Regions from separate parts of the Homo sapiens genome. Here region 1 is linked to region 2. Evidence: fine-mapped expression QTL. A gene starts in region 2. The other region holds a variant in brackets. All regions are shown on one strand. Distances are between the middles of the regions.

The links. PIP is the estimated chance that this variant, and not a neighbour inherited with it, causes the effect. A credible set is the group of variants that fine-mapping cannot tell apart.
Region 1: its variant is the best candidate, but not a certain one, in a credible set for the expression of IGSF3 in aorta (GTEx, PIP 0.79).

Annotation. Positions count from the first base shown.
Region 1 is chr1:116,709,369-116,714,740 of GRCh38, forward strand. LOC105378926 (a long non-coding RNA gene) reads right to left here and starts at 1,121. Exons shown (of 3, transcript XR_947741.3): 1 at 1,049-1,121; 2 at 861-924. It also overlaps the pseudogene GAPDHP64. The variant C/T (reference allele first, on the strand shown) is at 2,615.
Region 2 is chr1:116,665,241-116,670,612 of GRCh38, forward strand. IGSF3 (immunoglobulin superfamily member 3) reads right to left here and starts at 2,493. Exons shown (of 11, transcript NM_001007237.3): 1 at 2,378-2,493; 2 at 1,044-1,716. The coding sequence starts at 1,086. RefSeq lists a silencer at 2,338-2,727.

The sequences.
Region 1 (5,372 bases), 44 kb after region 2:
GGGCAACAGAGCGAGACTCTGTCTCAAAACAAAACAAAACAACACAGGCAGAACTCCTCAAATTGTACTTTACATCCTGGTTCTCAGTCAAGAAGACCCATCTTCAGACTGGAAAGGGCAGAATTAGTGCTGATTAGAGGGAAACAAAGCCACATAAAATTGCTCTGAGCAGACTTCACACACCCATTAAATACCCCACCAGAATTTAGCCCTCGCAAAGGGTTCCTCAGATATTTCTGAGATTCTCTCTGGGTGCGGAGCTGCAAATGCTTGTTCACTACCCCAAATCATCCCCTGATGCTAATGACACTCAGGATACGGACCCTTTGCAGGGCATAGCTAGCCAGCTCTGCTGCTGCCAGCACCTGGGATGAGGGATGCCGGACTTCCCTTTGCTTTCCATCCTAAGCACAGGACACAGCATTCCCTGAGTCCCCAGAGCACAATCCTCTCTCTAATACACAAGCTGCACAAGTGCAGGAATTTTTGTACCCCACCCACACCCCCACTTATGTAACCCCAAGGTCTAAAACAGGTTTGGTAGGCAGTAGGAGCTCAGTAAATCTCTGACTCTTTAACAAGTGTATAATAAACATTCAAAAGTGAAAGAAAGGGCTGGACAAGGTGGCTCATGCCTGTAATCCCAACACTTGGGAGACCAGGATGACTGGACTGCTCGAGCCTGGGAGTTCGAGACCAGCCTGGGCAACATAGCGAGATGCTGTCGCTATTTTAATTTTTAAAAAGCTAAAGAAAGAAAGAACAAGGCGGATAATAACTAACAACAATTAAAAGATGTTGTGAATTTCAGGATCCTCAGACTCAGATTTAGAAATGCCCGGTGATGAAAATGTACCCACCTTAAGCAGGCTGATGGCTTGGCATGCAGAAGATGTCTTTGTGGGCAGAAAAAGCTTCACCAGGCTGAAAAAAATAGAAAAATGTGTCCCCTCTCCCCACCTGCAAGGCAGGCAGATACATTAGAAGACAGAGATCCCACTTGGTGGGCAGGTCCTTGTCAGGTAAGGGTTCGGTTAGTAGGTGGTACCTTTGTGTCAAGAAGAAGGCGTGCCTTTCTCCCAGCAAGGGCAGCCCTTGGGTGCACAGCTTGGCCACACTCTGTTGGACAAAGCTGCACTGTCTTCCTACAGGGCTCCTATCCTGTCATGTGGCATGAGCCAGCACAACTGCACACAGTGCAAGTGCCCTCAAATCAGGTCTGCTCTGCCTAGAATCCCAGCCCCACCCCACCCAAGACCCAGAAAGGGGAAGGGATTCTCAAGCTGCCTCCCTGCACTTATTTCTGCCCAACACCTGCTCCTCCCTGGTGACCAATGATGGGACATCTATTCTCCCAGGAAACCCAGCCCTCACTCCAGGCCTATGATCTCATCCTGTGGCACCCAGTACAACAGCCCCATCAGAACACAATAGTCTCAAGGGCTTTGGGGTCATTATACTTCAATAATGCCACTTGAAGGGCAGAAACTGTCCATTGAACACACTTAGTTCTCTTTTATAGGCTGTCTTCTAGGGAGAGGTGAATATTCTGCCTGAATGTCCTTCTGTAGTCCTCTGGGCTGGCTGGTATTGCAAACAATTGCTCTGGCAAAAAACACTCTCCACTCTGCAAGGATAAGCAAACACTGTAATTCACTACATTCCTACCGAGTTAAGAAATATTTCACTCCTTCCTGGAAAGCAAGAAAATTATAGAGACTTAGCTCAGGCTTGACCATATCCAAAAACATACACAACCAAAACAAAACATTTATCATCCAAACCTAAAATCATCATCCAGAATAATGATGACTTTATAATTGTTCCAAAGAGCACACTGGGCACTTGTTCCAGGCATATGTGTGTAACAAAAATACCCATGAAGTGTGACCCAAGGGCTGACTGTTCAGATGAATTCTGTAATGGTTAATATTAGGTGTCAACTTGATGGGCTTGAGGGATGCCTAGATGGTTGGTGAAGCACTTTTTCTGGGTGTGTCTGTGAGGGTGTTTCTAGAGAAGACTGACATATGAGTAAGTGGAGTGGGAGAGGAAGACCCGCCCTCACTGTGGATGGGCACTGTCTGGTTGGCTGCCAGCACAGCAGAACAAAGCAGGCAGAAAAAAGCAGGCAGAAGAAAGCAGGCAGAAGAAAGCAGGCAGAAGGGGCATATGCAGCTTGCTGGGGCTTTCTCTTTCTCTCTCCCTTCTAGAGCAGGCCTCCTTTTCTCCTTCTGCCTTTGGGCATCTGACTCCAGGTTCTTCGGCTTTTGGACTCTGGGACTTGTACCAGTGACCTCTGGGGTGCTGTCAGCCCTTCAGTCTCAGACTGGGAGCTGCACTGTCAGCTTTCCTGGTTTTGAGGCTTAGGTCTTGGACTGAGACAAGCTACTGGTTTTTCTGATTCTCCAGCTTGCAAGCCCTATTGTGGGACTTTGCCTTTGTAATTGTGTGAGCCAATTCTCCCTAATAAACTCACATACATATATACACACACATATACAATTACTCAGGGTTCTCCAGAGGGACAGAACCAATAGGATACATGTATATATATGTGTATATATACAAATGTATATGTATCTTATATATATGTATCCTATTTGTTCTGTCC[C/T]TCTGGACAACCCTGAGTAATTCACCATCTTCTTTCTGAACAAAAAGTAATGCTGGTTTGAATGGCAGTTTCTTCCAGATTCTACCCATATGGTTCTTAAAGACAATGATAGGGTCCAGGATAAAAAAGTAGTTAAGGGAGTGTAAAAGAGCTTCATGCAATTGGAAGTGGTGTCAAGTTTCTTGGCCCAAAAACATTTTACCCTTGGGTGCTAAGAGATCTTGCAAATGCATTGCTCAGTTCTATCAATAATCTTTGTGGGACTGTAGTGAGCAAAAATGGTGCCATAGCACTGGACCCAGGCAAATGTCCTAAGTGCAAGAAATAGAAGTTGAGTTCTGGAGATTACAGAACGGCAAATGACCTAGATTCTGGTCATATTTATGAATAAATTGTTTAAAGAGAATTTATGAGCACCTACAAAAGGAAGTAGTGATTACCAGTGTAACTAAAATGCAGGTTAGTTGCTCGCTGTATGTGGAGTCCAGTTAACAAGAGCAAGGTCTGATAGAAAAAAAAGCAAATTGATTCCAAAGTTAGCTTGGGGAAGGGGCACAAAGGGTCCTGCCTTAAAATGTGCTGCTTCACTTTGGGAGCAGAAAGCAGGGATTTTTATAAGGTAAGGGAGGAAATGAGCAAGGGCAGGGGGTCTCCCTCCTAGCTTGATGATGAGTTGGCGCTTCCTGGGCAGAAGTAAGTTGAAAAAGTGGCCAAGCGGGTGTGCTTTCGATTTCCCCTCCTGGTGGATGAAAGTCCTGAGGCAACCCTGGGAAGATGGAAGTTCCGAGGCAACCTCTGGATGTGAAAATTCCTTGGTGGGTGTGCTTTGGTCTGCAAATCGACTGCCAGCTCTCAAGGAGAGATCCGTCTTGGAGCACACAGTTAGAAAAACTTGCCCTGTAGGGAAAGCCAGGTGATGGGGAGGAGAATGGTTATATTTGCATTTCTGAAGGGCTAAGGGGGCCAGGGAGATGAGAAAAGAAGAGAGAGAGAAGGAAAAAAACAATTAAATCACCTCTAGAAAAACAGGGGTGCTGGGTTACACTAGGAACTAGTATAGATTCACCCATAATGTTAAAGGCAAAGTAACCACTTTTCCTTTTTGAGAGGACTGTTAAACTCAGGAGACTGAGGTAGTGTGTGTGTCTCAAGGAAGAGAACAAGGCTTTCACTCCATTTCTGACTTTTTAAATTAGAGGTTGTACATCCATGGCTCATGGTTTCTTGTGTTTTAGTTGGCTCTGCCCAGCATTTATGATACTTTCAATTCAGTTGCTAACATTTAAAAACAAGGAGTGTGGCAAATCCTATTCTTGTCCCCAGTTATCCCTTACCCTCCCTTTGTGGCCTATGGGAGAGGCGTAGGTCCTCTCCCCACTCCCTCAGGCCTGGACAGGGGCCTTGCTTTGGCTAATAGGGTGTAAGCAGAAGTGACCTGTGCCACCTGGTGAGCAGTGGCTTGAAGAAGCACCACGTGGGTCTGCGGGCCCTCTTCTCCCTCGGCCACAAAACGGTGTGTCCAGGATGGGTCTGCTTTACAGCTGGATCCTGGAACAAGAAGACATGCAGAGCAGAGCCACAGCTGCTGACAACAGGAGCAGAAATGAACTTTTCTTTTCAATGCTATTGTAAATGGGATTTTTTTTTTTTCCTGAGCACAGGGGACTTTATTGATAGTACGTGACAAGATGGGGCTCCCTAGGCCCCTCCCTCTTCAGAGGATCTGCATGGAAATTGTGAAGAGGGGAGATTCTCAGTGCAATGGGGGACTGAGTGCAGCAGAAACTCCCCAGCAGTGAGGGCCTCTCTCTTCCTCTCATGCTGTCACTGGGGCTGGTGGTCTGGGGGTCTTACTCCTTGGAGGCCATGTGGGCCATGAAGTCCACCACCCTGTTGCTGTAGCCAAATTCATTGTCATAACAGGAAATAAGCTTGACAAAGTGGTCATTGAGGGCAATGCCAGCCCCAGTATCAAAGGTGGAGGAGTGGGTGTCACTGTTGAAGTCGGAGGAGACAGCCTGGTGCTCAGTGTAGGCCAGGATGCCCTTGAGGGGGCCCTCTGATGCTGCTTCACCACCTTCTTGATGTCATCATATGTGGCAGGTTTTTCCAGACAGCAGGTCAGGTTCCTGGCCAACACATTGTCAGTGGGGACTCAGAAGGCCATGCCAGTGAGCTTCCCATTCAGCTCAGGGATGACCTTGCCCACAGGCTTGGCAGTGCCGGTAGAGGCAAGGATGATGTTCTGGAGAGCCCTGCGGCTGTTATGACACAGTTTCCTGGAGGGGCCATCCACAGTTTTCTGGGTGGCAGTGATGGTGTGGACTGTGGTCACGAGTCCCTCCACAGTACCAAAGTTGTCATGGATGATCTTGGCCTGGGGTGCTAAGCAGTTGATGGCACAGGAAGCATTGCTGACTATCTTGGGGCTGTTGTCCTACTTCTCATGGTTCAAGCCCATCATGAACATGGGGGCATCAGCAGAGGGGGCAGAGATGATGACCCCTTTGGCTCCCCCTGCAAATGAGCCCCAGCCTTCTCCATGATGAAGATGTCAGTGGACTTCACAACATACCCAGTGCCAGCATCACCCCATTTGATTCTGGTGGAATCTAGCTCCTGGAAGATGGTGATGGGATCTCTATTGATGACAAGCTTCCTGTTCTCAGCTTTGACAGTGCCATGGAATTCGCCATGGGTGAAATCATACTGGAACATGTAGACCATGTAGTTGAGGTCATTGAAGGCATCATTGATG
Region 2 (5,372 bases):
AAGCAATCTCCACTGCCAACAGATCACCCTAAGTTCCCTACGTGCAAGACACCTAGATTTGGAGACGTGAACCCTGTAGGCAACAATCATAATCCCTTCTGAATGCAGAGGACCGAGCCTTACAGAGAGGGCAGGGGGTGTGCTCATGTATGAGGTCTGAGATGGGGAAAGAGAATGGCACCAAATCCTGGCAATGAAGTTTATCCTAGACCTGAGATGTGTTCTAAGACAGCACGCTGAAGACAGTGCTCAATGGCATAAAAAGAATAGGCAATTGTTGAGCAGAGGGGCCTCTTCACTGGGGTGAAGGTCCTGCATCTGCACCTTAAGAGGGGTGTCAAAGGTTCACCTCTCAGGGCCATAGTTTCTTCTTCCCACTCTAGGCATTCTGATTTGTGGGAGCACAAAAGCCAATCCTAAAATCTCCCCTACCAGGCAGCTTCCTTTTCTTCAGGCTCTCCTTCTCCCAGAACTACGATCTAAGCTTCCTTGGTGAGGAGACACAGGACTAGTGCCCTCACATTTTTAGCCTTCAGACCACTCAGGTAGGCAAAGCATCCCTTCAACCCCCATCCCACTTACTCCCATTTCCACCTCAAAAAAGGCACCATCATTATCACCCAAACCAACTTTCGAGACAGAGGGGAATGATGTTCCCACTCCCAATTAGGAATCAATGCAGCCCAACAAAGAAGTGAAAACACCAGAGCATCCATGTTTGACATGCTACAAGACAGCAGCCCACCAGCCATGTGAAGTCCCTAAACCACAGATGTGCAGATGCAGGACCTCACCCCAGGGGCCAAGACAGACACTTTAAGAACAGCAAATGTTCCTTCTTATAGATAACAAATGATATTCCACCGTTGCTCTTGGGTTAGAAACGGGCCTCTTCGTACTCTACTCCAACCTGTGACACACACCGACCGCCTCCTGGTGTCCCCCAAATCCTAGTGTTGATGAAAAAGAACCACGAGAAATTACAGGAACCAAGAGCAGGTTAAACTTTCACATCGATTGCACTGATAAGCAGAGCCACTTACCCAGCACAGCCAGACAGCTCAGCACCGGGAAAAAGCACTTCATGTCGGCAGCCTCCAGGAGACACAACACAAGGCGCTTCCTCTTCTCCCAGCTCCTAATCTCTCATTTCTGGCAATCCACTTATAGCTCCAGAGAACAGTTTTGGAAATAGAACTTAACTCGGAAAATGGGAACAGATTAAAAAGAAGAGATCAGAAGGAGGGAGTTGGGGGGAAGGGGAGGAGTGGAGGCAAGTGTGAAAACTCCCCTATGCTACAGGAAGGGTCCACAACAATTCGGAAGTCGCTCCCGGCTCCTGCCACATCGTGTGCCTTGCAGTTTCCACTGAAATTGCAGACTGTAGTGGATTAATCCTCCAGAAGCACGGAAAAAAGGGTCTGAGAAAATCCTTTCATCCACTGATTATACAGAAATGTCCTTGGCTTCTCAGTGAAGGTGTCTGTGATCTCCCTCATTCGGATTCCCCAGAGAGAACAGGGCAGGTTTCGTCAAAACCTTTGACGGCCAAATCACCCTGCCTGGCATCAACCGTTTGGGTTTCTTCACCAAAAAGTCCGTTTCCATCCATGGTGGTAGGTCACGGAGGCGCCACCTGCCCCACGCCTGCCTAGGGCACACGAAGCAAGTTGGCGTTCGGCAGCCCTGAAGCGGTACCCCAGCGCGAGCAGATTTCTAAAACAAACACAACAGAGATTTTTATCAAAGGCAAAGCTGCAAAACCCACTGGGGCTGAGCGCTGAGCTGGTCCGGACACCTGGGTCCGGTTCCTGGACCAGGACAGTCAACCTCTGCATTCTGACCTTGGGCAAGTCTCTGTCTTTCCCTCCGCCTCAGTTTCCCTGCCCAGAGCAGGGCAACAGTGGGAAGCCCGATTGTTCCTGAAATACTTCCACCAAATGCTTCACTCCTGGGAATTCCCGTCACCTCCTACCGAGCCCGGGCGCCGCAGGTAGCCCCACCCTCCGCCAGGGCAAATCGGGAAGGGGCTCCGCGGTGGGGCCGCGACTCCCGGCCCCCGCCCCAACCGTGGGAGCTCTGCGCGCGACGCGTCCCAGGTGGCCCCGCTATTGTTTTACCTTGCAGGGTGTTTATATCTCGCTGATTGGAAAGAAAAGAAACCGGGGAAGAAGGGAGTCCGGAGCTCCGCTTTCAGCTGCCGGAGCGCGCTCGCAGCGCGCCCGCCCAGCCAGGGGAGGGGTCTCGGGCCCGACCCGGAGCTCAGCCGGCGCGGGCCCGCTCCCCACTCCCCGCTCCCCGCTCCCCGCTCCACGCCTCCCCGCCTCCCTCCCCGGGGCCCCCTCCGGGCGCCGCCCGCGCCCCCGCCGAGCCTGACCTCGCCCCTGGCCCTCTCCCTCCGCGCGCGTCGGACCGTCCTTCAGTCCATCCAGGCGCACGCCTCAGGGGACGCGCCGCTTCCTCTTCTCCCGCAACGGCACCAGCAGCCGCGCTGCGGCCCCTCCCGAGTCCCCGCCCCTCCAGCTCCAGCCCGGCCCGCCGCACTCGGCGAGGCGAGCGCGGGGCCAGGGCGGCGGCCTCGAAGAGAGGCCCGGCCCCGCCCCCGGCCCCGCCCCTGGAGACGCGAGTCCCGGCCCCGGGCCTGGCGGGGGCATGAGGGTGGCCCGGGGCACCGGAGGACCTGGGCAGGGCTGGCGTGTGGGCCGAGCAGCCCGGCAAGTTAATCAGGGCTTCACACCCAGACTCCGGGGCCGCCGGCGAGATGTACAGGCCCTTCCCAAAGCCCAGCTGGCCACCCATAACCTGGGAAGCCGGCGGCACAGAAGCTCGTCCTTCCTCCTGGAAACAAAAACAAAGCCCTTTGGAGACTTGAATCTGTTCACGAAGTGGAACCCCATATTGCACTTCACTCTTGGATAGAATTTGGACTCTGGAAACAGCCTGGGTTCTAACGCCGGTTCCTCCACTTCCTCGCTGTGGCCCTTGGCAAGTTACTTAACCTCTCTGTGCCTCAATTTCCCCATCTGCTATGTGGAGGAAATAACCCTTACTTAAGAGGGTTATGGGAGAAATCTGTGACATACTTGTAAAGCATTTAGAATGGTGCCTGATACATCACAAGTGGTCAGTAAATATAAGCTATTATTATTTTATGACCAACCGCCCTGTAAAGCAAGTGCTTTTTCGTTTTCTCACTACTTACCCAACACACACAACTTGCTGGGTAGACACCGTCACGAGGCGACCAAAGCAGAATAGACCGCCCTGCCCTCATGCAACTTGCAGTCTAGTGGGGACACAGACCATAAAATAGACATGACAAGAAAAGTACAGTGTTGAGGAAGCAAATGCAGAGACCCCAACCCTGTGTTATTGGGGGAGGGGCAAGGAGGAGGGAGCTTTGGTCGGGGTAGGTCCCAGGCTTCTCAGAGGAAAGGAAAACTCGGTTGAATGCCAAAGAACAGAAGGCAGCAGCAGAGGAAGAGACAGAGGGGAGGTAAGGAATCGCAGACTGAAGAAACAGCACCTCTGCAGGCCCAGAAAGGAGCCCAGTTAGAGGACCAGGACAGTCTGCTGGGCCCAAACTTGACTGTAGGAGAGAAGTGACAAGAAATGAGCTGAGAAGAAATCGAGTGCCAGAACCTAGAGGGCATTGTATGGTGTGTTAAGGGGTTGGGACCATTGGGAAGCCACTGAAGGTGTTGAGTAAGGGACTATGGTTATCAGATATACGTTTTATTTTTCATTTTATTTTAAGAGACAGGTTCTCACTCTGTGACCCAGGCTGGAATGCAGTGGTGTAATCTTGTCTCACTGCAACCTCCACCTCCCGGGTTCAAGTGATTCTCCTGCCTCAGCCTCCTGAGTCACTGGGACTACAGGCGTGCACCACCACACCCGGATAATTTTTGTACTTTTAGTAGAGACAGTGTTTCACCATGTTGGGCAGCCTGGTGTTGAACTCCTGACCTGGTGATCTGCCCGCCTCAGCCTCCCAAAGTGCAGAGATTACAGGCATGAGCTACTGTGCCCAACCAGGAATCTTTCCTTGTGTGTTAATTATTACCTCTTTCCCAGAGACACCCGTGACTCTGGCAGCTCTCAGTTCCCATTTGCTAGACTCCTTCATTTATTTATTGAGCACCTACTACGTGTTAAGAAAAGTCTCTGCTCTCATGAAGCTTACATTCTGGTGGGAAACACAGACAATGAAACAAGTATATAATATAATGTAACGTGTTCTGAAGAAAAGTGGAGTATAGAAATGTGTGGGCGGGCACAGTGGCTCATGCCTATAATCCCAGCACCTTGGGAGGCCAAGGCAGGGGGATCACTTGATGTCAGGAGTTCGAGACCAGCCTGGCCAACATGGCGAAACCCTGTCTCTACAAAAAATACAAAAATTAGCCAGCCGTGGTGGTGCACACTTGTGGTCCCAGCTACTTGGGAGGCTGAGGCATGAGAATCGCTTGAACCTGGGAGGCAGAGGTTGCAACGAGCTGAGATCACACCACTGCAGTCCAGCCTGGGCAACAGAGCGAGAGTATCTCCAAAACAAACAAACAAACAAATAAAAAACAGAAAGGAAAAGAAATAGTGTGTATGTTTGGGGGTTCCAGTGGGAAGAAGGACTCTTTGCTAGGTGAGGTGGTCAGAAAAGACCCCTCAGAGGAAGTGACATTTGAGCGAGACCTGATTACAGGGAGTGTGTGAGCGCTGGAGATTTCTGGAGTAAGAAGATTCCAAGTGCAGGGAACAGCAAGTGCAAAGCCCCATAACATGTTCAGAAAATTAAAGGTGTGTTAGTGTGTCTGAAATGGCATAAAACAGAAGGAGAAGGAGGAATGTGATCAGAGAGGTCAAAGAGGCCAAATCTAGTAGGACCTTCTAACCTGAGGAGCTTGGCTCACTCTGGCTGCTGGGTAAGAATAGAGCATCAGATGGTAGGGGTGGACAAGGGACACTGGATGGGAGGTTCTTTCCATTGCGCAGGTGAGAGATGATCACAGCTTAAACTAGGGTGGTGCTGATGCAGGTTGTGGAAATGGGTGGAGTCTGAAAGCATTTAGAAAGCAGAGTCAATGAAATTCTCTGAAGAACTGAATATGGAGGGGGAGAGAAAGAGAAGAGTCAAGGAATCTTCCAGAAGGGGCATCTCAGCCTGCTTTGGAACTCTCTGACCCCCACCAAGGTGTACCCCCATCAAGGTGCAAGACTGTACTTTCTGAGGCCTCTGCCTAGGCCTTCATCCTTGAACCCCTATACTCAATTATCCCTTCTCTATTACTCGTTCTTTCAATCTCAACCTGCCCCTCTTCATACTACTTGGCCCCTTGCATCCTTCTGGATGATCTTTCAACCCTTGACTTCCA